Homo sapiens: one gene and its partner. The protein of the gene in region 1 purifies or fractionates together with the protein of each later gene. This does not show direct contact. Each region holds a gene or a part of one and is shown in the gene's direction. Other genes may lie near its edges.

What was found.
Region 2: the proteins of FBXO15 (region 1) and HINT3 purify together in Homo sapiens (affinity purification with mass spectrometry; 3 studies listed by BioGRID and IntAct, with this or other methods). This does not show direct contact.

What each region holds. Positions count from the first base shown.
Region 1 is NC_000018.10:74,121,780-74,134,359, reverse strand, and holds part of FBXO15 (F-box only protein 15), read left to right. Parts: intron 1-3,701; coding exon 3,702-3,944; intron 3,945-4,745; coding exon 4,746-4,955; intron 4,956-5,583; coding exon of another isoform or gene 5,584-5,707; exon of another isoform or gene 5,708-8,251; intron 8,252-8,258; coding exon 8,259-8,385; intron 8,386-9,788; coding exon 9,789-9,871; intron 9,872-10,849; coding exon 10,850-10,992; intron 10,993-11,340; coding exon of another isoform or gene 11,341-11,522; exon of another isoform or gene 11,523-11,768; intron 11,769-12,580. UniProt on the Homo sapiens protein: Substrate-recognition component of the SCF (SKP1-CUL1-F-box protein)-type E3 ubiquitin ligase complex.
Region 2 is NC_000006.12:125,963,706-125,976,285, forward strand, and holds part of HINT3 (adenosine 5'-monophosphoramidase HINT3), read left to right. Parts: intron 1-3,181; coding exon 3,182-3,299; intron 3,300-8,553; coding exon 8,554-8,623; intron 8,624-11,141; coding exon 11,142-11,268; intron 11,269-12,580. UniProt on the Homo sapiens protein: Exhibits adenosine 5'-monophosphoramidase activity, hydrolyzing purine nucleotide phosphoramidates with a single phosphate group such as adenosine 5'monophosphoramidate (AMP-NH2) to yield AMP and NH2.

The sequences.
Region 1 (12,580 bases):
GGTCATACTAATGAATAGTCAAGTTCCGAAATAACTAATCTAGTCCATCTTTGTTGTTAGGTGTATGCCACTTAAGTGAGGAACTCAGAATAAGCCCTCAGATCTCATTAAAGCTGTCCTCAACCATTGTCATACTCTGAAGAGGACATACACTGTTCCCTAGTTGGAAAGGGTGATTTTTCTTTTAATTTAAAGAGATGTTTCCTATATGGAAGAATATATGTATGTCTATGTCAATACATGCACACACACACAAACACACACATACACATATCAATGAATGAACTAATAATGTTCTTCACAGTAGTTATAGAATGAATTAGAGCAATTTCTACATTTCCCTTCCTTAATGATTGTTGTAGTTTACGTAGTTGAGATTTGTTTGTTTCCCCAAGCCTCATGTTGAAATTTGATCCCCAGTGTTGGAAGTGGGGCCTAATGGGAGTCATCTGGGTCATGGGAACAGATCCCTCCTGAATGGCTTGGTGCCTTCCTTGTAGTTCTTGCTCTAGAGCTGGTTGTTTAAAAGAGCCTGGCAGACCTCCCTTCCTTCTCTCTTGCTCACTCACTCTATTTCTCTCTCTCTGCCGTGTGATCTCTGCACAGTTGGCTCGCCTTGGTTTTCTGCCACGTGTAGAAGCTTCCTGAGGCTTCACCAGAGGCAGATGCTGGTGTTGTGCTCCTTGTATAGCCTGCAGAACTATGAGCCAAATAAACCTCTTTCCTTTGCAGATTACCCAGCCTCAAGTATTCCTTTGTAGCAACACAAAGAGACTATGACAATGATCTAATAAGAGATGAAGGTGGTCACTAAAAGAAAGCACAGCAAGGCATTTTTCAAGGAAGGAGTCAACCAAATATCTAAAACTAGCATTCTGGAGGGTTCCCACTTTATTTAAGGGTAGAACTCAGACTCTTCAGATAAGCTGATACATTGTATATTTCTTAGTTTCTTTACTGTCTTCTCTCTCCACTTCACCTGCATGGTGAAGAAACCAGGCCTGGAATCAGATTTGGAGCATGGCTCTAGTGATGTTTTTTGCATACTTTTAGTATTATTTGTGTGCCCTCCTCACTTTCTTGGAAGTTGCCGTTTGGAAATATGAGCTACTGATGAAATTGCACTCACATTTCTTTTCTTTTTCAAAAGACATATTTAATTGTGCTAAGTTGAATTGCACTTTTTAGGTCCTGTTAAAGGACCTAAAGAGTCATAGTCTGACTCTTAAAGTCAACGTCTGATCATGAAGTCAGACTACAGAAAAGGATGTGTGATAATTGAACAAGTAATCAATATGTGTTTTTGAAAAGTTTACAGTGTATTCTAAGCGTTACTTCTGAAGAGAGGGCAAGCACACATAGTGTAGTGAGTTACACTGATGACTTATGGGCAGGCACACTTGAAGGGCAGGGGGCTCCCCAGTGCCCCATCCCAGCAGCGGGGCTACTCCCTTCTGTGTGAGCCCTGTCTCTGCGTGAGAAAAACAGGGGTGTGTGGATGAGGTGACATCTGGTTTATCACAAGGGGGTTTTATTTGCCATGTACTCTGGCAAACACTATTTATCTGAACATTAAATTGGCCCCATTTTCTAAACAACTTGTTTGAGTTTCCCTGAGCCTGTTGGTAGTTCTGTTGGATAAATATGCCCTCGTCCTCGAATCTGACTAGGCCTTCTAACAGGATGGAGCATTTGGGGATCAAGAAGTAAATGTGTTTGGAGACTGTGAAAGGTATCTGAACCTTAACATTTGTATATTATAAAAAATCAAGGGGAACCATCTGCAATATAAAATGTTTTCACTTAGGTTCACTTACGGTAAGTAATATATGATCATGTATGTGAACATAGTTCATCATACGAATGTTAGTTGTGGTTATGGTTACTCACTGCATGTGGAGTTTATGCTGTGATTCCCATCTCTGCGGCAGTGTTTGTTTTTGCAGTTGGTAAGTGCTAACACATGTAAAAATAGTATCAGAGGTTGTTTAGATAGTGCTGATGTGAGGAATTCAAGGCTCCATAAAGGTCCTGCTAAAGGAATACTTACATAGGGTGAGATGCTGAATAAAATAAATGTGAAGAAAACACAAGCAAGCTTTTATGCAAAGGGAGTTTTAAAAGTGTCTATTCAAAGGATTTTGGTGAAACAGTTTCAGCTTTACTTAAATGTACTCAACTCATCATCGCATTGCATCTGTCCGCTTACATAGGAAAGTCTAGAAATTTCTGAATTGAAAACACAAACACTTTAATATAAAAGCTAGGCATGAAGTGATTTTGCAGAGTGAGAAATGACTGAGAAACCCACACTAGGAAGAGAATTCAACCAGGGTCTGACTGTATGTGAGCTTGCATTTGTTGGGAAGTCCATGTAATGTCTGAGTCAAGGAGGTGGTGTTCCAAAGTCACGTGTTTGAGAAATGGTCCTTTTCTGCTGTGGTTAAGGAAATAGCTCTGCCTCCCCAGAGCACCCAGTTATCCCCAGGGGTCCTGCTGCAGTTCAGGACCACTGCTCTGTGGGGGAATCGCTTTTTCCTTGCAGCCTCCAGGCCGTTGACTGCTTCATCCCATGCTGCTCTGAGTAGTAATGTGGAGACCTAAATGAGCAAATCATTAATGTTTAAAATGCAAAGTTTGCCTTTCAGATAAGGAATTGATTTTAACCGCTGCCTCAGTTTTCCCTGTGTCTTCCTTCTCTTTCCTGGTGGAGAGTACTGGCTGAGAGGGAGGAGCTCTCAGGCCAGCTCACTGCCACCACTCGTGGGGCTTCTCCTGCCCTCTTAGTAGAGATGAGTGGAAGGAACAGACTTTGAGTCAGAGCTGAATTTGAATTCCAACATTGAGGCTTATTGGCTCTCTGAATTTGGGGAGCTTATTCAGTTTCTTTGACCCATTTCTTTGTGATTGAAGAGGCAGTGAAACCCAGGTGATAAGAGTGTGAGCTCTGGTTCCGATCCCAGCTTCACTATACACTTGAGTGCACAGACCTGGGCCAGCTCACCTTGCATCTGAGCCTCAGTTACAGCATCTATGCAGTGGGGACAGGAATACCAGCACCTCCTGGTTTCTTTCTGAGGAATAAATGAGTCATGTATAATACATAAAGTGGTTAAACGATGCTTGACACATAGTAAGTGTTGACAAAATTTAATGTTAACTATTGTTTAGTTGTTACCATTAAAAACCTTCACTTTTTTTCTCTTTGTGAAAGCGTATTCCTTGTTGAAAGTTAAAAAATAGCAAAAAGAGTGTTCAATTCCATTGTTCCCTATTGAAATTTCTTGGTGTGTGTACATACATCCTTTCTGATCTTTTTAAAAGCATGTATGTATTTAAAAACAAGAATCATACTACATATACTTTCTGTTATGTTTAAATAATATATTTCCTATTCCATTACTGGTATAAGAGGGCAGTCGTTTGGATGATCCTAAATAACGTGAGATTACTCACTTGAGACCTGACCCTGGGAAATGGGCTTTTCCTTTTTTTAAAATGTGTTTTTGGTGGTGTTGAATTTAAAACACTAAATCTCAAACTGCAATTCACTTTAACAGATGAACGTTCAACTGTAAATATTCAGCTTGGCTTATTCATGGAATTGGATTATTTGAAAATATGCATCTCTAATTTGATATATTATGACTAAGGTAGGTGACAGTGTCTCTTAGTTAACATATTTCCTCTTTTCCCTCCAGTTTTATTTGGATCGGAATCTACTCAACTGCTTTTTCACCTGCAAGATCAAATTGGAAATTTAATTCAGTAGAGAAGATAGCTATGTCTATGAGCTTTCTGTCAGTTCAGGATAAAGAAGCTGGTTATTGGAAGAAAGAATATATCACAAAACAAATAGCATCTGTAAAAGCCGCACTAGCTGACATTCTCAAACCTGTCAACCCTTACACAGGCCTTCCAGTTAAGACCAAAGAGGCCCTCAGGTACGCAGTGTGTTCCAAAAGAGAATGATGGCATCAGCTCAAAGTATCGTGTACGTAGGACGTATGTGCAGTTTAGATTGTGTGGGACTGTCTCTAGTATTTTTGTGTGTTTTGTGCATCTATAAAATATGTATCATTTTCCTATTCCGCATAGCCTTCTGCATCTGCTGATTCAACCAACTGCAGATCAGAAATATTAGTGGGGGGGAACTTGAAACAATAATAACAGTATAAAAAAGAATACAAATAAAACCAGTACATTATACATAATAACAACAGTTTGCACAGCATTTACATTGTATTAGGTATTATAAGTAATCTCAAGATGATTTAAAGAATACGGGAGGAGGTGCATAGGTTATATGCACATACTATGCCATTTATATAAGGGACTTGAACGTCCACAGATTTTGGTATCATGGGGTTCCTAGAACCAATTTCTTGCGGAGACAGAGGGATAACTAGTAAGTAGCCTAAAGTTTTAATGAAAAGCAGAAGTAACCTACTTATCTGCTATAGTACAATAAGAATGTTCAAGGTCTCTTTTCTGGGCAGAACCTTTGTCTTATTTATATATTGCCAGTACCTGGAAAATCATGGATGTTCAGTGGGTGTTAGGTGAGGAGAAAAAGTCTAAAGAGAGTACTATTGTTGAAGTGAAAATTATACTGGGCACATTCTGAGAATTTTGACTTTGGCTTTTAAGGAACTAGATGCTTTAGAGAAGATACATGAAATTGCCTTTAGCATTTTTTTTTTTTCAATGAGGCAAACATTGTTAGTTTTTTTTTCTTTCTCCAGAATATTTGGTTTAGGTTGGGCAATTATACTGAAAGAAAAAGGTGGAAAAGAATATATCATGGAGCATGTTGATCTTTCCATAAATGACACATCAGTTACTGTTATATGGTATGGCAAAAAATGGCCATGCCTAGCATCATTGTCAACCTTAGATTTATGTGGCATGACACCAGTTTTTACCGACTGGTATAAAACTCCCACCAAACATAGGTAAGTACCAATCAGCAGAACTGTTGAGTGAGAGCATCTTATATGTAAATATTAGTTGGCATTACTTTTGTAATTAAAAAATAAGAGCAGCGTTTTTTAATTTTATCACATATTAAATGTACATTCTGCATTAATGCAGAAGAGGAAAAGAGTGCATTTTATCACATTTCTGATTAGGTCTAAATTTAACTTCCTCGTATCTTGGGGTTGTCTTTAATGGTAAAGAATGATGTTCTAGTTAACAAAATTTCCTGGATGATTGATGGCTAACCTTTGAGGTTTTTCATTTTAACCATCTTAACAGAAAGATATATGTTATCTTCCTTCTTTAGTAAATGGTATACTAATCATAGTCTAAATATGAGGAAACCAAGTCATAATTATGAGTTATTTTGTCTGCCTTCTGTTGAACTTACTAGATATGTGATCTTGTGCAAGTAACTTACTCTTTCTGTGTCTCCATTCTCTCCTCTATGAAATGGAATGATCGTTATACTGGCATAGTATTTAGCATATATGACTGCAATGAATAAGATCGATCAAAAGATATCACTATAAAATGCGTAGATCAGCTAAGTGTGCAGCACATGGGTAATGCTTAGTGAGCCCTTTACTATTCTGTTGTCAGGTGGCTTTGCACTGAGTCCATACTCACTATGAGGCTGGCATTCTGCCTTTCTGAGCAGCTCTCTCGGGCTGTCTTTTTCATCATTGATTGCTTCCTCCTAAAAGCTGGATTATGGCATGCATAGCATCCTCATCTCTGGAGCAAGCTAACATAGCTTTATATAAGATATATTGCAAATATAAAGGTAATACCTGCCTTCTCCTGCGTTGGTTTCCTGCCCTCCCATCTCCTTCACTGTCTCAGTATTCTTTGACTTTTCAGGAGTATTTACCATGTCGTTTTCTTACCATCCTTGCGTGCTGCAGTTCCACCCATTGGTTTCTCTCCTGTCTGTCCTTGCTATGGAGGATACTGTGATATCTGACATTAGTGCCTGCCATCTCTATGGAGGGACAGGGTTCTTTCATGGTTTCCCTGGATACAGACACTTTTTTTTTTTTTTGCAGCTCTGTAACTGGGGACCTTGTTTTTGGCTCCTCTCCATGGCGCCTGCTCTTTGAGCATTGTTTTAGTGATTACTGAGCTCTCTTCCCATGCTCTGAATGTAAGACTATTCAGACCTCTTGGTGCTGGCAAATCCAGGTTTTATTGTACTCTAAAAATATTCTTAATGTTATGATGAAAAATGAATTATTTTTCCTAAATATATTACTGAAGATACTTTGGAAACAGTTACCTTTTAAAAAATGGTACTTTTATTTGGATAAATCTTTGAAATTTCATACGGGATCATGAAGGAAGCCAGCTTTTTCTAATGTAGTAATTAGGCTTTATGCATTTCAAAATTACGTTTGGAGAACAAGTCCACAAACTGTACTAGTTTTGCTAAACAATATGTTACTTGGCATATCATGAAATGTTACTTACAGATATTAGGACAAACTGGCTAACATTAATTCAAATGATCCTGAAGAATTAAGTTAAATGGATAATGTTGAATTATAAAGCTCAGTTAAAGACAGTATTTCCCTGAAATGGTCATCAAGGTCAGAAGTAATAGATACTACATAGTGCCCAATGCTAGAATTCATTGGGAAAATTCATTTGATGTAATTTATTTCTGTGAAACTTCCATGGACTCCAGCCAGCCTTTGATCAACTGTGATAAACAAAACTAAAAGTGTTTTTTAGGATTTGTTTTGATCGGCACTTTTATTGCAAGTTTGTAAGTGAATGCTTTCATTGTGCAGGAATATAAATCCTTGTACGCATCTGTGTGACAGCCAAAAAGAGCCTTTGTGATTTTTATTTGGGTCTTTTTTGTTTCCTCTATGAGAAGTTTTTCAACAACAGTGAAAGCCTCATTGATGTAATCTGGATTTCCCTGTAATTTATACCTTTCTAGTCAGACTCCAAATTTTCTTCCTTGCCAGCACTTTCTGCTCTGCAGCTTGTGCTGTCCCACCCTAAATTTGTGAGAACTGCTGGGGAAACGTCAGCCTTAGTTTCTGTGTCTGTGGCTGTAAGGCCAAGCACATGAGGACTCAGCACATTCCCAGAGTCTATTTAATAAGTACCTCTACAGCCAGATTTTCAGAGAAGAAGGTTTCTCACATCCCCACCCAGCCTCCTCTATCCACATTAATGATACTAGCAGGGACTGCGATTTATTGAGCACCTGCCCCATGCCGTGTGCTCTTGTCCCCACTCAGCAGGCTGGTGATTTCATACACAAAGAACCAGCCTGTGATAGTCGCAAAGTCACTGTAGGTTGAAGCTAAGGTTTTACCTCAGGTTTCTCTGACTCCACAGTGAGGTTCCTGACCCTGCATTTATCCTCCTCCAAGTGTATTCTGCATATGCTGGGTTTATTTCTAATTTCTACATCACACACGTTCACCGACCGTCTCTCCTTACCCAGTTGTTGTTCTCTGCACAAGAAGTTATTTTGAAGAGCTGAACATGGGACTAGGGTCATGTGGCAGCTGCGGATCTGGTTTTGATGCTTCACAGTCCCTTCCACTTTGAAGCTGGACTGCAGCTGGTGTCCTTTTTAACTTATTTATTTAATGTACCTTTGAATTCCTATTGCCTGCTGGCTTGTGCCTGAGGTGCTGGGCACCAACTGTTGAATGAGATGTGGCCCCAGCTCCTCAGGGATTTCAGTCTAATGCTGTGTTAGTGTCTCCTTTATGAAAACACTGGTGATTTAGTTTAAGTTTATTTCTGATGTGTCAACTTTCACTATCTCTGAGTTATCCTTGATGATAACTGTGAAAGGCCCATCTGCTTTCCAGCCATCTCCTGAGACCACCCGTTCTTATGTCACTTGAAATAGTGTATCTTTGCTTCTGTGTTGTTTTACTCACTTGACTAGGAATACACATTGAGAGTCTACTTTAGATTGTATTGTGCTGGATTTGGAGGGAATAGAACAGGAGACAATGCTGCCACTTCATCACTTTCCTGGTCCTTCAACTTCCTCCCGGCTGGGTCATTGAGTTGACAGTAAGAGCAAGACGGAGGGGAAGAAATACCTAGTTGGCTTGGAAATCTGAATGTATCCATTTTGCCTTTTATTCATTTGTGTCCTCACCCTGCCAACATGCCACTTAGTTTGAGCACATCATTAACATGCTCTTCAAACACATTTGTGATACACTAAAGAGAATTGACAACACTATGGACAGGAAAGCTCACTTCTCTCTCTCCTTTCCTTGGCATAACGTTCAAAGACTCCGATGGCATTCTTTAATTGCAAAGTACAATCTGAGTCATTTGACCATATCTACCATGATTGGCTGTGACAGACTCATTCGGATCTTCTGCCTGCACCCTGGCCTCCTGGTGGGAGTGTGGAAGGTAAGACTTGAGTCCCTGTATGTACTGTGTCATTTCCCCATCACAATACCACATTTACTTACCATTATGTATGACTTCAAATGTAAAATCCTTTAAGCTTTTCACTAACTGCAATCCATTTTACCATCTCACCAACTTCATTTTTTCAAGCTAACATGGCCCTCTCTGTTCCACCGAGGCTGCTGTGCTGTTCTGCTATGATAGACAACTCTGCTATCTGTTGTTCTGCTGTTCTGCTATCATAGACAACAACCTCTTCCTGCCTTCATGTTTTCCTTCATGTTATTCCTTTCATGTCATGTGGCTTTCCCACTTCCAATCAGTCCACGTTCCTTCTTCTCTTCCTTTCATGCTCTTTCTCTGACAACATTTCCCTTACTATGTGTTCAGCACGCTTGTCTCCCAAGCCTGTTTCTGATCCTGTAGGTGCGGCATTGAGTGAAATCTGCTCTTCAGGGTCAGCTGTCTACGATGTTATCCTTTCTCTCTGCATAAGATTTCTCGTTTCACCAGGTCTGGCTGATATTTTAAGATAGTAGTTCACAAATCTGTTTCTGAGTTGGCGTTATGCATTAGTTTACAATGACTAGACGGGATTAAGACCCTAGCTTCAGACAACACCATCCTCATCCCTTTTCCTTAGCCAACTGTGGCCGTCACTTTTTCTTTCCCTCCTCCCCTTTCTGTGTGAAGGTGGCTTGTGGGCGAGACCGCAGCTTGCCTGCTCTGCATTCGGTGACTCGCATGCATCCAGCTTTGTTGGTTGCAGAGTTGTGAGCACTCTGGTGGCTTCGATTGTCCTCTGCCTGGCTACTGGAGAGTGGCACCTTCAAATTTACCATTTGGGGGTCACCTATGCCCATCAGTGTCAGCTGTGAATCTGGGGAGAAATGGAGGTCAGTCCCCAAATAGTCGCATTTTCTGCTATTCAACCTCATGGACAAGTGAAGAAGTTGAATCTAATCATTCCCACCACGTTGGCCAAATCAAGCAGTTACTTGCAAGAGGAACATTGTGTCAGTAAAGTTCAGTATTTGTAGAATTAATCTGGTATCTGTGAAAGTCTTTGAAAGGAATTTGAAACAGCCTGGAACTAACTGCATAGTTTCACAACTATCATATATATCTTTTGATATTTCACAAGCTCTAGGCTGTGAGTTCTTTTGGTCCTGTGTGCTCTGCATATTTGGGTGAATTGTGGTCCTGCTGTCAATATGAAATATAAGTCTTATTAGATAGTAGTAACATATTAGCAGTAATAATGCATTAGCACTGTGGTGATCTTATGTTTGTAAGAAAGTGCCTCTATCTGCAAGATGAATGTGCTGTGATCTTCACAATGATCTTGTGAAAAATGTAAGCATTTTGGTTGAAATATGTATTCTTCTCAATTAACTTTTCAGAAGGAGGAAGAACTGGCTTTTGTTATGGCAAATCTTCATTTTCATCACCTTGTGGAGAGGAGCACATTAGGCTCGGCTACTATGTATGTATTTATATGTGGGTGTGTTGAATTTTTGTACAGTAAATATAAAGTATTAGAAGTTGATGCCATCTTAATATCCTGAGAATAGCTGCAGAGATATTCTGTTTTTAATCAGTAAACACAAACCAACAGGCACAATTAGCTGTCGCTAAAATAATTGGATTATTCACGAGTACATATTTGCTTTATTTATTCTGGGTCAAGGAATTTGTACCTAGTAGGTTGTTATTTGTATGGGTAGGATAGCTTGATTACTTCAAGATGCCACTACTGTCCTTCAAGTTCTTGCTCTTATGTGAATTTTCACATCTTGTAAGGCATGTAGACTCATGGCCCTTGGGCTGAACCTGGCCTGCGGATGATTCTGTCCGGTCTGGACAGTGTGTGTCTTTTAATGAATTTGCGCGTCTTTAGGTGGCGCACAGGCTTCCCATTTCACTACAGCTCTCACCCTTTTCCTGTGGACTTAGACTCCCTTACTCATTTTTTTTTTTTTTAATTACCTGAGAAGCTCCTGAGTATTTTTGAGTTTGTCACCTTACGTAGTCATGTTTTTCTTGTTGAATAAAACTTTGTCTTGGCTTTGGGTCTGCCTGGGTGTTTGTCCTGCAGATCGGTATTCAGTGCCTTTTCCTGCTGAGCACTTTTGTCCCCTGGACACTGAGAACAACACGGAGGGCAGAGTGGCTTTTATAGAGTGGCCATGCTGGGATCAGCTGCAGAAACATGTGCACCCGTGCTGGGCGGTGGCTGCCTACAGAACTCACATCATTGCCTGTTTTTATAGAAGTTGGTAAAAGTAACATTGAGCAGTCTTTTAAGTTCACAGTATTGAAGATTATAGGGAATCCTATGGAGTTTCATTTGTAGGAGGTAGTGCTTTGATACAGATGGTAATTTTTTAAAAAGTATTTTCAAACCAAGAATTTTATCCCTGGTGTTGACAAATTTGTATGTTTCTTTTGTTTTGCTTTTCAGCCCCTATGAACTGCCTCCACATAGCCCCTTTTTGGATGATAGCCCCGAGTATGGACTGCACGGCTACCAACTCCATGTTGATCTGCACAGCGGTGGGGTTTTCTACCTATGTGGTACATTTCGCAATCTCTTCACCAAGAGAGGTGAAATTGATTGAGTTTTTATTTCATTATGAAATTAAAGGTTGAGGTGAGGGAACCAATTTTGATGTCCGAGTTAAGAATTGCCCTCACTGGTCACTTTATAATCTTTTGGCACCAGTATCCTCCCAGACCCGTGTGTCATCCCAGGGCTTGTGAAAGTCCTCACTGGACCGAGTCTCTTCAGAACTGGCTCTGTCTCCTTCACCACCATCACTCTCAATGCCACCTTCTGGGGGTAGCCCCTACTCATCTTCTCTACTGATGCTTCCTTATTATTTTTCCATGCTCTCTGCTTTCCCCAGACTTCTTCCCTTCTTTCTTAAAGGAATGTGGTAAATTTGCCAGCAGGGCCCGTGCCGCTCCAGGATGAGAGTAAAGAGAAACCAGCCTTTCTCCTCTACGTACTGCATCACTGTTTGCCACACCTACCAAAGCCAGGACAGAGGCTGGGGCAGACAGAGGAAAGGAGGGAGCTTACGCCAAGCAGGAAAAACGAGGGAGTGGAGAATGCCCCATTCTCACTTATCTGATTATTTCCTTTTGGTTTCATTCTACTGTAGCCTGTAAACTTGGAGTTTCATGTAAGGACTTGCTTAGATTCAAGTTTAACATTTCTGGTAAAAATATTTTAAAAGGGAAGTTATGTACTTCATTTTGCATTATATTGAGAGGTATATAATGTCAGGTTGTCCCATTATTAGTAATGCCTGGTTTTATCATCTGGTTAAGATGGTGACCACTAGATATCTTCATTATTAAAAGTATTCTTTTCCAAATATCCTGGTCCTCCAAAGTCTTTCATCTAGTGGACTTGACACTCATTAATGATATGTGCCTAAATCAAATATTTTGTTTAAAAATGTTGATTTTCTAATTATGTCACTATTTCTATATTTATCAACTGAGATTTTGTAAAGAACTTTCTCTTATCACCTGGGTGAACTTCTATAAAGGCAGAGCAAATGCTTAATTCTTTCCTTTTAACTGCCAATTTTCAGATGAAGAAATTGATGTTACAGAGCACAAGGGGCTTGCTGCCTAATGTGCTGGAACCCAATACTGTGACAGCAGGTTTTTGAGAAAGGAAAAGCTTTTTATGGCTGGCCCACTGATAAGGAGACAGGAGTCCAGCTCAAATCTGTCTCCTCATGCTGGCTTTAATGCAGTAATTTTATTAGAAAAGGTGTAGGGAGTGGATTCTGGGATTAGTAGGTGATCGGTGGAAGGAAAGGGAGGTCTGGAAAGTCCTCAGGCATGGCGCAGTTACCTCTTCATGCCCTCGTAGGTCACTTGCAAATTCAGGAGGAGTTAATATGAAACATGTGGTGGGAATTCAGGCTGTGATGTCAGAAAACTCCATCTGTGAAAACTCCAGTTGGCCATATTGGTTCCGACTGATTTCAGCCAGTTTTATCTTACAAGTGGAGGGCGTTTTATTATTTTAGTAAGTTGCCTCTTTTCTTATCTGCCATCTTGCAAACTCAAGCATTTCTGTTAGTCATTAGCTTCTTTAACTCTGGAGCATGGTTTCACTGAGGCACTAGTCATCTCCTGTGGTGGAAGAAATGTGAGCTCTTCTTCTTTCCTC
Region 2 (12,580 bases), on another chromosome or scaffold:
CATAAACATATATACATTGTATCTGTGCCATTAAAACATCATGGGAGGGGGCAATCAGAAAACATCTATAAAGTCTCCTTAGGGAGGTGTTAATGAGAAAAGGTTGAGACACACTGATCTAATTCAAAAATGGCCACAATTCCAATTTAAGAAGGGGTTTTGCAAGGAGAAACTGAAAGATCGTAGAAAATCCATCTCTGTTCCTGGAAAAATACCTGAAAACCCAAATGACACACCATTTTTTAAGGGGTAGAGAAGGGTGTATCAGTAACTTTATCTTCTATGAAGCATCTGTCATTTATTTATTCAGCAGTTTGGCAGGCGTACTTTGTTATTCACTTGGAGTTCAAAGATGAATATGGCATGCCCCACACTTGAGGAGCTTCCCTGTGATCCAAATTCAGTGCAGGAATGAAAATGCTCTTTAGTGGATGTCATTAGGGATGGATAGGCAAAATACTGTATCTTTAAGTCACTTGAAATCATTCTCTTCTTTGAATGGAATGATTATGCTACCAACATGACATCCAGTTAGGTTTATTGTTTGTTTTTTATTTTTAGGGATTGCTTTTTTTTCTTGTGAAGTGTGATGTATACATGTTAAATATTTACATGTTTTCAGAGTCAAAATTGTAAAGCAAGGTACATTTGGAGAAATCTAGCATCCATTCTCTTGTCATCTCTACCATGTCTCTTTCTCCATAAGAAACTTTTAAAAACTTTTTTGTTTATCCTTCCATTGTGAGTAAATAGGTATTCACATGTCTGTATTTGTATTCTTCTTTCTTACACACAAAAGATAGCTTAACCACTCTCCTGCTCCTTGCTGTTTTTTAAAAAAACTTGAATATATCTTAGAAATAATTTCGTATGTATATGAAGATCTTCCTCATTCCTTTTTAGAGCCACACAATACTCCATTGTGTGGATTTGCCATAATTTATTAAACCAGTCGCCCAGCTGCATTATGAATGTTTGGTTTATTTTTCAGTCTTTTGCTATCATGAATAATGCTGCAAAGAATAGTTTTATACACACACACACACACACACACACACACACACACACACAATCATTTCATATTTTTGCCAGCGTATCTATGGAATAGGAGGATCATTTTTCTTAAGATGAACCATGTAAATGATGCCTGGATCAGCAGTAGGAATGGGACAAAGGGTGACATCAGAGCTAGTTTCAATATTTCAGAAAGCTTCATGGAAATCTAATTTAGTCAGGGTGTAGGCTAACTAAAACATCAAGTTTCTATATTTTTGAGAGGAATTTTATCTATTCCTGGTGATAAGAGTCATGTTGATTGGTAGTTTTTATTAGGATTGGGATTGTGTAATTAATTAAGATTGGGAAAATAAATTATTGATATATGAGAGTTAGTAACCAAAACCTTTCAATATAGAGGTTGGAAGACAAAACTAAGCATTTTGGTTCATTCTTATCGCTAAGTTATGCAGTATGAGACAGCAGATTTTTAGGAACCGCTTTAGCTTTTCTCCTGCTAGCCATTAGACTGGCACTTGCTAGTTCTGTTAATCTAAAGAAGTGTCATTCCTGCTGTGAGGTAGAGTACAGCTACATCATCTCAAACTAACCAGGTTGTATTCTGTACCAGAATTACCTCTGGATTTTAAAAAATTAATGCCGTAATTGAGGGGAAATAAAGATATATAACATTATTGTGTTATGAATCAATCTGGGAAGTAGGATTGTGGCAATTTTCTTGTACTAGATTTAACCCCCAATTTTAATTGTTTCTGAGCTGGAAGTATTAAAGAAATAATGGTAATCCCAGCACTTTGGGAGACTGAGGCAGGAGGATCGCTTGAGTCCAGGAGTTTGAGACCTGCCTGGATAACATAGGGAGACTCCATCTCTACAAATATATATATATAGCCTGGCATGGTGATGTGCATCCCAGCTACTTGGGAGGCTGAGGTGGGAGGATCAACTGAGCTCAGGAGATCGAGGCTGCAGTGAGCCATTATTGTGCCACTGCATTCCAGCCTGGGCTACAGAGAGAGACCCTGTCTGAAAGAAAGGAAAAAAGGAAAATTTTAAACAATAAAAAACAGTGTAGTCCTTGACCTTATCCTTTTCTAAAACATTCCATGGATATCAATTTTTAATTTTAATACTAGACAGAAAAACCATAATAAAAATGATAGAAATGGATTAAAATTGATATATAATTATCATGTTTGTTATCTTAGGATAACCAGGATTACTGGAATGGATATGACGCACTTGTTTGAATTGAATTTTGGCTCTTGGAACAGAGAACTATTGAGCAGCATTGCATTCATGGATTTTTTCTAAGGGAAACTCTGCTTACACTGATTTTAATTAATTTTTATTTAATGTAAAGTAAAAATTAAAATCAGTATAAGATACTGAATAAGATATTCACTATCAGATATTTAATATGGTTATTTAGTGAATATAAATTTTCTTTTAGGAAAGTTCGAAATTCAAATGTTAATAGGTTGAAACACGCTCTTCCTTTCCTTTTCTTTTTTCTGTAGATTACTGTGTGGGGTAATGTAAACCAGAAAACTGATGCCATACATGTAGTGTAGTGGTCCCATAAATTAGTACAATATACTGGAATTTGTTTCAGCATTTCAGTCTTTTTAATACTGTAAAGTGGCAAGTAAAAAAGTCTTTGGATATAATTGCTTTAAAAAGTGTTTAAAAAATGCAATCCCTGGACATGTAAATGCTAGCTGGTGTTCTTTTTATAATTGAGGAAAATGCTACGTTGGGAAAAAAATTAAATGTAGAAAGGAATTTATCTATCTTGTTGTGATTCTGTAGCCAAACCTTTAAAAATATGTGTCAAGGTAAAAAACTTTAGGGTAGGGATAGAGAAATGTGTAATGAAATAATAAACTCTGAGATTATTGGTAATGAAATTTTAGTGAACTTTACTCATAATTGTTTCCCCAAAATTGATTTTATGTGTCTTTTTTATTCTCTGGAATCAATAAGCATCTCATGAAGGAAGTGTTATGAACTTAATGCGTAATTATAAAATTGCCCAGTGGGGGTTAGGTGTAACATAAGTATCATTTCCCTGTCAGACTGAGATTAATGATATTTAAGTCATGCCAGAACAGCATTAAGAAATTCTTTTTAAAAATTCACTAACAAATGTTTTTTCCTTTAGAATGAGGACCTAATTTGCTTCAAAGATATCAAACCAGCAGCAACTCATCATTATCTTGTGGTGCCAAAGAAGCATATTGGAAACTGCAGAACTCTAAGGAAAGATCAAGTAGAACTGGGTAAGATGATGGCAGTATTCTTCATGTTTATATCATTTTCAGTTGGTATCAGTGATGGCAGTGAAGATTAAAAAGAAAAAGTCTAGTTAAGTACTGTGAAAAAGGAGCATTATGACTTTTTGAAATTTTCACTATAAAGAATTTTAAATTCATTAAAAAATAGTATAATACTCGTGTATTCATTATGCAGCCTCCACATTTAGGAACTCATGGACAATTTTAAAAAATACATTAACCTTTTCCCACAGTGATTGTGAAGCATAAACCAGACATCATGCTATTTAACATTTAAACTGTCCAAAAGATAATATATTTTTATGACTTTTTTTTTTTTTTTTTTTTTTTGAGACAGAATCTTGTTCAGTCACCCAGGCTGGAGTGCGGTGGTGCAATCTCGGCTCACTGCGGCCTCTGCCTCCTAGGTTCAAGTAATTCTCCTGCCTCAGCCTTCCAAGTAGCTGGGTTTACAGGCATGCGCCACAATGTCTGGCTAATTTTTGTATTTTTAGTAGAGACGGAGTTTCACCATGTTGGCCAGGCTGGTCTTGAACTCCTGACCTCAGGTGATCCACCCACCTAGGCCTCCCAAAGTGCTGGGATTACAGGTGTGAGCCACCGTGCCTGGCCTATTTCTATGACTTTTTAAATGATGGACTTTCTTGACTCTGAAATGAAAGGTGCTATGAAAAATTATAAACAAACAAGTTACGATATGACAAATGAGCTCATATTGCCTTATGGTGAGATCATGTTGGTACCTGCCTTATAGTATCCTGTGAAGATGAATTAGCACCAAAATTTAATTATGAGTTTTTAGTGATGAACTTCTAGCTTCTGAAAAGGAGATTCTGAATCTTGTCTATTAAGGATGATTGCTCATTTTCCTACTCATGCCTTCTGTGGCTTGTCACCTATCATTTTCTAAGACATTTCTAAGCTTACTTCAAATCTGCCTTTAAAAAAGATAATTTTTTATTTTAGATTTGACGGTTTAGATTTGAAGATTTAGATAAAACTTTTATTTTAGATTTGATGGTACATGAGCAGGTTTATTACGTGGGTATATTGTGTGGTGCTGAGGTTTGGGATACAAATGATCTGTGACCCAGGTAGTGAGCATAGTACCCAACAGTTAGGTTTTCACCTCTTGCCCCCATTTCTCTCTCCCACTTTTAGTTGTCCCCAGTGTCTATTGTTGCCATCTTTTTGTCCATGAGTACCCAGTGTTTACCCTCTCCTTATAAGTGGGAACACAGAGTGTTTGGTTTTCTGTTCCTGTGTAATTCATTTAGAATAATCGCCACCAGCTGCATCCATGCTGCTGCAAAGGAGATGACTTCATTCTTTTTTATAGCTGCATAGTATTACATGGTATATATGTACCACATCTTCTTTATCTAGTCTACTGCTGATGGGCACCTAGGTTGATTCCATGCCTTTGCTGTTGTGAATAGTGCTGTGACTCACATACAAGTGCATGTGTCTTTTTGGTAGGATAATTTGTTTTCTTTTGGATATATACTCAGTAATGGGATTGCTGGGTCGAATGGTAGTTCTATTTTAATTTTTTTGAGAAATCTCCAAACTGCTTTCCACAGTGGCTGAACTAATTTACATTCTCATCAACAGCATGTAAGTGTTATGTTTTCTCTTCTGCCTTACCAGCATCTGTTATTTTTTTACTTTTTAAAAATAGCCATTCTGATTGGTGTTGAAATAGTATCTTATTGTGGGTTTGATTTGCATTTCCTGATGATTAGTGATGTGGAGCATTTTTTTCATATTTTTTTGTCCTCTTGTATGTCTTCTTTTGAGAAGTGTCCGTTTATGTCTTTTGCCCATTGTTTCATGGTGATTTTTGGTTGTTTAATTGTTTAATAATTTATTTACAGATCCGGGATATTGCACCTTTGTCAGATGCATAGTTTGCAAATACTTTTTCCCATTCTGTAGGTTATCCATTTACTCTGTTGATAGTTTCTTTTGCTGTGCAGAGGCTCTTTAATTTGGTCCTACTTGTCAATTTGTGTTTTTATTGCGTTGCTCTTGAGGACTTAGTCATAAATTGTTTCCCAAGGCTGATGTCCAGAATGGTGTTTCCTAGGGTTTCCTCTAGGATTCTTATAGTTTGAGGTCCTACATTTAAATCTTTAATCCATCTTGTGTTAATATTTGTATATGGTGAAAGGTAGGGGTCCAGTTTTATTCTTCTCCATATAGATAACCAGCTATCTCAACACCATTTAACTGAATATGGCGTATTTTCCCATTTCTTATATTTGTCAACTTTGTTGAAGATCAGATGGCTGCAGGTATGTGGCTTTATTTCTGGGTTTTCTGTTATGTTCTGTTGGTCTGTGTGTCTGTTTTTGTACCACTATCATGCTGTTTTGGTTATATAGACTTATAGTATAGTTTGAAGTTGGGTAACGTGATGCCTCTAGCATTGTTCTTTTTGCTTAGGATTGTCTTGGCTACTTGGGTTTTTTGGTTTCATATGAATTTTAGGATAGTTTTCTCTAGTTGTGTGAAAAATGATGTTGGTAGTGTTGAATCCATAGATTACTTTGGGCAGTATGGCCTTTTTAACAATATTGATTCTTCCAGTCCACGAGCATAGAATGTTTTTTCATTTGTTTGTATCATCTATGATTTCTTTCAGCAGCATTTTATAGTTCTCCTCGTAGAGATCTTTCACCTCCTTGACTAGCTGTATTCCTACGTATTTTTGTGTGTGTGTGGCTATTGTAAATGGGATTGTGTTCTTGATTTAGACTGTCAGTTTGAGTGTTGTGTTTGGAAATGCTACTGATTTTTGTACATTGAATTTGTATCCCGAAACTTTACTAAAGTAGTTTATCAGTTCCAGGATCCTGTTGGTGGAGTCTTCAGGGTTTTCTAGGTATGGACTCAGATTGTTGGTGAAGAGAGATAGTTTGACTCCTTTTCCTATTTGGATGCCTTTTATTTCTTTCTCTTGCCTGATTGCTCTGGCTAGGACTTCTGAAATCTGGAAAGGCTTTGTCATGAGGTTCTGGGATTAGTTTGATCAATATTTTAAGGTAGCCTACATGATAGATCAATTGGGCTAGATTTTTAAGAGGTAAGAAACCACTTTAATGGAAAACCTTGATGTGTAGTTCATTAATATTTAGGCTAGTGAATTAACTAACAATTTTTAAACTGTCGATTCTGAATACAGCTAAGTTCCTTAGTCATTTGAAGTTCTATCAGTACATTTGAGAACATATATGATTTATAACTACAGTACCCTGTACTGTACATTTGAGCTTATAACAATTAGATCCAATTTAGATTTACCTGATTGAAACATTTCATCTTTCTTATTAAAAGTTTTTATTTTCATTCTTGTAGTTATTTCTTGGGTTTCACACTTTAGCTTTTTAGGAATTTTTCAATTTATATTCAGCAGAAGTGGAGAATAGAGGCTGTTATAACTAGTTTTTATAATGTTGCAAATCAAATATTGCTAATTTTGAAGCAGCTGGTAGGTATTTGGGATTCCATTACATTTTCCTCTTTGCTTTTGTGTTATATTTGAATATTTCCATACTAAAAGTTGTTGCAAATTAATAATTTTTATATAATTGATAAAGTTGAGGAAATAATAAGCATATGGAAGAGTTCAAGAACACTATCAAGGAATATGACTATAATTGACATTTACAGAACTCCACTTAAATACAGCATACATGTTTTTTAAAAAGCATATGTTCACCAAAGTTGACCATATTCCGAGCAATAAAATACAGCTCAATACATATCAAATGATTGAAATCTTATAAATATGTTCTCTAAAGACAGTATAATTAAATTAGAAAAAGAAAAAATTCCAAAAAAAGATATAGTCTGGCTTGAAGTAATTTGGAGCTTTTTTTTGGACTCTATGGTACTGACCTAGTCTTGGAAGGCTGGCAGTCTCCCAGCTCAAACCTGACTTAAAGAAGTAAACATTAACAATGATTTTGTAAGTCTCAATATATCAGCTATCCTCTGTAGATGTTTTTACTTCTTCGTCTTTCAAATACATGATTACACCATTTAGAAACTATGGAGGCCTAACATTTGGCATGGTGCTTTGAAGATCCCAGGTGACCAAAATTTTTTTGGTGGACAGGTTTATTCCCACCTGAAGGCCATAAAACACCAAGAGAAGAAAGATGATAAAGGAGATGGAATTTGGAAGCCAGAGTCATTATACAAATTTTTGGCTAGTCAAGGATAGGCTGACTGGAAGGGATACCATATCCTTAATTTGGGCTCAAAGACAAATTCAAAGTTTTCTTGTCTTATTAAATCAAACAATTTCTGTTTAATTACTTGGTCTTCTTGATGAGAGTTAGTCCTCATATGATCAGATGTCCTAAATAGCCAGCTGTCCTAAAGTCTACTTATCTGTGAGATTTTGTGATAGTGATGTTGCACTGAGGCTCAATTTGAAACTTTATTTCAGTTGTTGATAAGCAAACTTCTCAGTGACTTAAAGCTACTGAATGTCTTTATTTTTTATTTTATTTATTTATTTTTGAGAGAGGGTCTCACTCTGTTACCTAGACCTGAGTGCAGTGGCACAATCATAGCTCACTGCAGCCTCGACCTCCTGGGCTCAAGAAATCCTTCTGCCTCCACGTATCGAGTAGCTAGGACTATAGGTGTGCACCACCATGCCTGGCTACCTTTTTTTTTTTTTTTTTTTTTTTTTTGAGACAGACTCTTGCTCTGTCACCAGGCTGGAGTGCAGTGGCTCAATCTCGGCTCACTGCAATCTCTGCCTCCCAGGTTCAAGTGATTCTCTTGCCTCAGCCTCCCGAGTAGCTGGGACTACAGGTGTGCACCACCACGCCCGGCTAATTTTTTTTGTATTTTAGTTGAGATGGGGGTTTCACCATGTTGGCCAGGATGGTCTCGATCTCCTGACCTCGTGATCCGCCTGCCTCGGCCTCCCAAAGTGCTGGGATTACAGGCATGAGCCACTGCGCCTGGCCACCCAGCTACTTTTTAAAAAATGTTTTTTAGAGACGAGGTCTTACCTTTTTGCCCAGGCTGGTCTCAAACTCCTAGGCTCAAGTGATCCTCCTCCCAAAGTGTTGGGATTACAGGGGTGAGCCACTGTGCCTGGCCTGAATGTGTCTTTAAATGTTTACCCATTTGATAGGACAAGAGTGAAGATCAATGGCAATTTGTGACCTTAATGTCTCCTCTAGTGTAATGTTGTGTCTTTTCTGTTTTACAGTTGAGAACATGGTAACTGTTGGAAAAACCATTCTTGAAAGAAATAATTTCACTGACTTCACGAATGTGAGGTGTGTATACTTCCAGATGGAAACCAATATTATACATTATTGACGTTTTTCAAAATGTCATTTCTCCATGGAAAATGGAAACAGAGGTGGCAGTTTGTGGTTTAAATGTAGTTTTCCTGAAAGTGAGAATATAGTTCATTGGTAGTATAAATGTAATAAAACTTCCTCTTGTGTCTCAATATCTTCCAATAATTTCCACTTGAAGTTTGGACAGACAAGTCTATATGGGCAGTGGGTAGGTAAAATAGTTACAAGTCTACTTTTTAAAAAAAAATTTTTGAGATAGGATCTCACTGTGTTGCCCAGGCTAGAGTGCAGTGGTGTGATCATGGCTCATTGCAGCCTCAACCTCCCAGACTGAGTATCCTTCTACCTCAGCCTCCAGAGTAGCTGGGACCACAGGCAAGTACTGCCACACCCGGCTAATTTTAAAATTTTTTAGGTAGAGACAGGGTCTCCCTATGTTGCCCAGGCTTGTCTCAAACTCCTGGGCTCAAGTGATTCTCCTGCCTCAGCCTCACACAAGTTCTGGGATTACAGGTGTGAGTCACCACACCCAGCAAATCTACTTTTCTTTGTTCAATATGGGCATTCCTATAAAACTGTATGCAAGTTGAATTTTCTTAGAAAAATTTTATATGATTTAAAAACACATGATTATAATTCTAACGTGAAATTAACTTGAATTTGTTGTCTGCTGAACTCTGGCGTAAGCACATGATGTTCAATTTTTCAACTTTTTTTTTTTTTTTTTTTTTTTTTTTTGAGACGGAGTCTTGCACTGTCCCCCAGGCTGGAGTGCAGTGGTGCGATCTTGGCTCACTGCAACCTCTGCCTCCGGAGTTCAAGTGATTCTCCTGCCTCAGCCTTCCACGTAGCTGGGATTGTGTGTGCATGCCACCATGCCTGGCTAGCTTTTGTATTTCTTATAGTAGAGACAGGGTTTTGCTATGTTGGCCAGGCTGGTCTCGAACTCCTGACATCAAGTGATCCGCCCGCCTTGGCCTCTCAAAATGCTGGGATTACAGGCGTGAGCCACTGCGCCGGGCCTTTTCAAATGTTTTAATTTGTCTAAGTAATGTTTTTCTTTTTAAAAGGTTTCCAATTTTGCTTCTGTGACCCAAGCAGGTATAATGGAGATTACTTCTAACACTTTTGACCTAGAATTCAGAATAGACTTGAATTCTAATGCCATCCATGCTACTTGTGGTGTACTCTACGTACACTGTCTGTATTAGTTTAGACATGCCATTTAGCCTCTCCAAGATAATACCTGCTCTGCCTGCTGGTAGGTGCAAATGAGATTCTCTGTGTGAAAAATCCTCCAAAAACTGTTAAGTATTACCAAGTGTGATAATGACAAGGAACAAATGGTGTTTGAGACCCTTTGGCCAGAAGCCACACATTTCCTTCACAGTCATAGGATACTTATTAGAAGAATGAACACTGGACAAAGAATTGAGAGCCCTGAGTCTCAACTCCAGCTCCACGACTGTCTAACTTTGGGACCTTGGGAATATTTTAAACTTTCTGGATCATGGCTTCTCCATCTTTAAGATGAAAAGATTGAGTGAACCTTTGAGTTGCTTCAAGCTTCTAGATTATTTGATTCTACATTATATGACTGTTTGGCAGAAGGAAAACCTAGTCTCCTCTTCTAGGTGGTGGTGGAAATTTTAAAGTATGTACTGCATATCTGACTCCACATTGCTAGTCCCAGAGGATCACTGCTGCAGTATAGCACTTCTATGCCTCCTTTCCACACTTCCACTCACTGATACCTTGAACAGGCAAATATTTCTAGGCTTTGATTATTGTTACAGGTGTGTGTTGCTCTGCTGAGCATAGGTGGACTTGCAAAAATTTTTGTAAGCTTATTTTTAAGAGTTTAAATCATATTTTAAAAACTTTGTAACCATTTAAAGGAATTCTTGTGTATCTTTTAGGAAGCACATAATTATCATTATCATCTAACTTATTTTAAGTATTAAACAAGAAACCTGGGTGATGACGAAAGTTTTTTATGATGACATAATTAATCTCACTACTGAAATATTGTTGGTTTGGTGGGAAATGTCTGAGTACTTTATTAAAGGAAAAAGTGTGCCATCTACTGGCTATGTATTGAATAAAGGAACACGACTACTTGAGTGTCCAGTGATGTTTTTAAAAATTCATTGCAAGAGCATATTTTAAGAGAATGAAAGCTTACGATGATAAAGACTGAAGTGATAAGACATTATGCCAACTCAGAATTCATAAAGATTATATTGAGGCGTAATATGCTGTTAAGGCCTTCCTTGATGATGAGCTTATGTTACTACGAACTTCAACATGAAAAGAAGAGGAAGTGTGTGAATCCTCTGAAGTGCATAAAGAGAAACATTAATGAGATTTGTGACAGTCTATTTACCTTAGGTACTTATTTTGGATCTCATTAAAATTTATGTGTTTTCACCTGAAAAATGACTTTATTTTAGAACTGGTTTGTCAATCATCTCTTTACTTTCTATTTTAGGATGGGTTTTCATATGCCACCATTCTGTTCCATTTCCCACTTGCACCTTCATGTTCTGGCACCAGTGGATCAGCTTGGCTTCTTATCCAAGTTGGTTTATAGAGTCAATTCCTATTGGTTTATCACAGTGAGTATTCTTGTTATGTCAGCAGCATACAAAAATATTTAAAATATCCTTTTCATTGTAGTTTTTTCTTCTCAACAGTAGGCACTTACAGCTCTCATAGACTTGATTACCTGTTTTAACATACTGCTTGCACATATCCAAAATAATATTTTTAATTTGGGGGATTTTGAAGATCATCAGTCTGTAGGAAGAGAAGCTATGGCTAAATCTTCCCCATTGCAAGTAGCAGATACGATATAGAAGAACCATGGTATTCAGAGTTCTGACTCTGGAGTCAGATCTGGATTCAAATTCTGGCTGCAGTGCTTGCTTGAGGGTCCATGTGAAAGTTACTTACATTTTTTAAGGCTCAAGGTCTTTATCTATTACCTGCATATAGGTAACAGTGCCTATACCTAGGGTTGATAAGAGAGTTGATGAGGTAACTTATGTGAAAAGCACTTAAAACAGTACCTTGCAAATAGTAAGTGTCAGGAAATGTTACCTGCTACCTCTATTGTATCATCAACATCATTGTAGAAATTGAGTTTTTGTAGTTTTTGATAGTTCAAATTCCTTAGAAAAGAGTTGTAGTAGTAGCATCACCTATCAGATCTGTGGCTGAAGAGTTGTTTTTTTTTTTTTTGAGACAGTCTCACTCTGTCACCAAGCTGGAGTGCAGTAGTGCAATCTTGGCTCACTGCAACCTCCGCCTCCCGGGTTCAAGCTATTCTCTTGCCTCAGCCTCCCAAGTAGCTGGGACTACAGGTGCATGCCACCATGCCCAGCTAATTTTTGTATTTTTATTAGAGATGGGGTTTCACCATGTTGGCCAGGCTGGTCTCTATCTCCTGACCTCATGATCCACCCGCCTTGGTGTCCCAAAGTGCTGGGATTACAGGTGTGAGCCACTGTGCCTGGCCTGAAGTTTTGAGTCTAAAAAATTACAGCATTCTGCTTTTCCAAAGCAAAAGTGGAGTAGAGTTCAGCTGTTTATACACCTGTGGTCTGAAAGTCAGCCCTTAGATATTAAGTGACTCTGGGGTCCCTCTAAGGCCAATTGACCACTAATTTACCAGGGTGTTATTTTATGTGTCCATGATGACAAAGTGATCTGTAGTTGCCATATCTGAATAATCATCCAATAGTATTTATTTATCATTAGTTAATGAATGGTATTATTCTAGTCATAGTACAGAAAAATTTAAAAAGTGTCTGATTTCTAGAAACTTCATATTTCAAACATATTATCCCTGTCTTCAACTTGTTGCCCAGATGATTTCATTTAAATAATATAAAAATACAAAAATTAGCTGGGTATGGTGGTGCATGC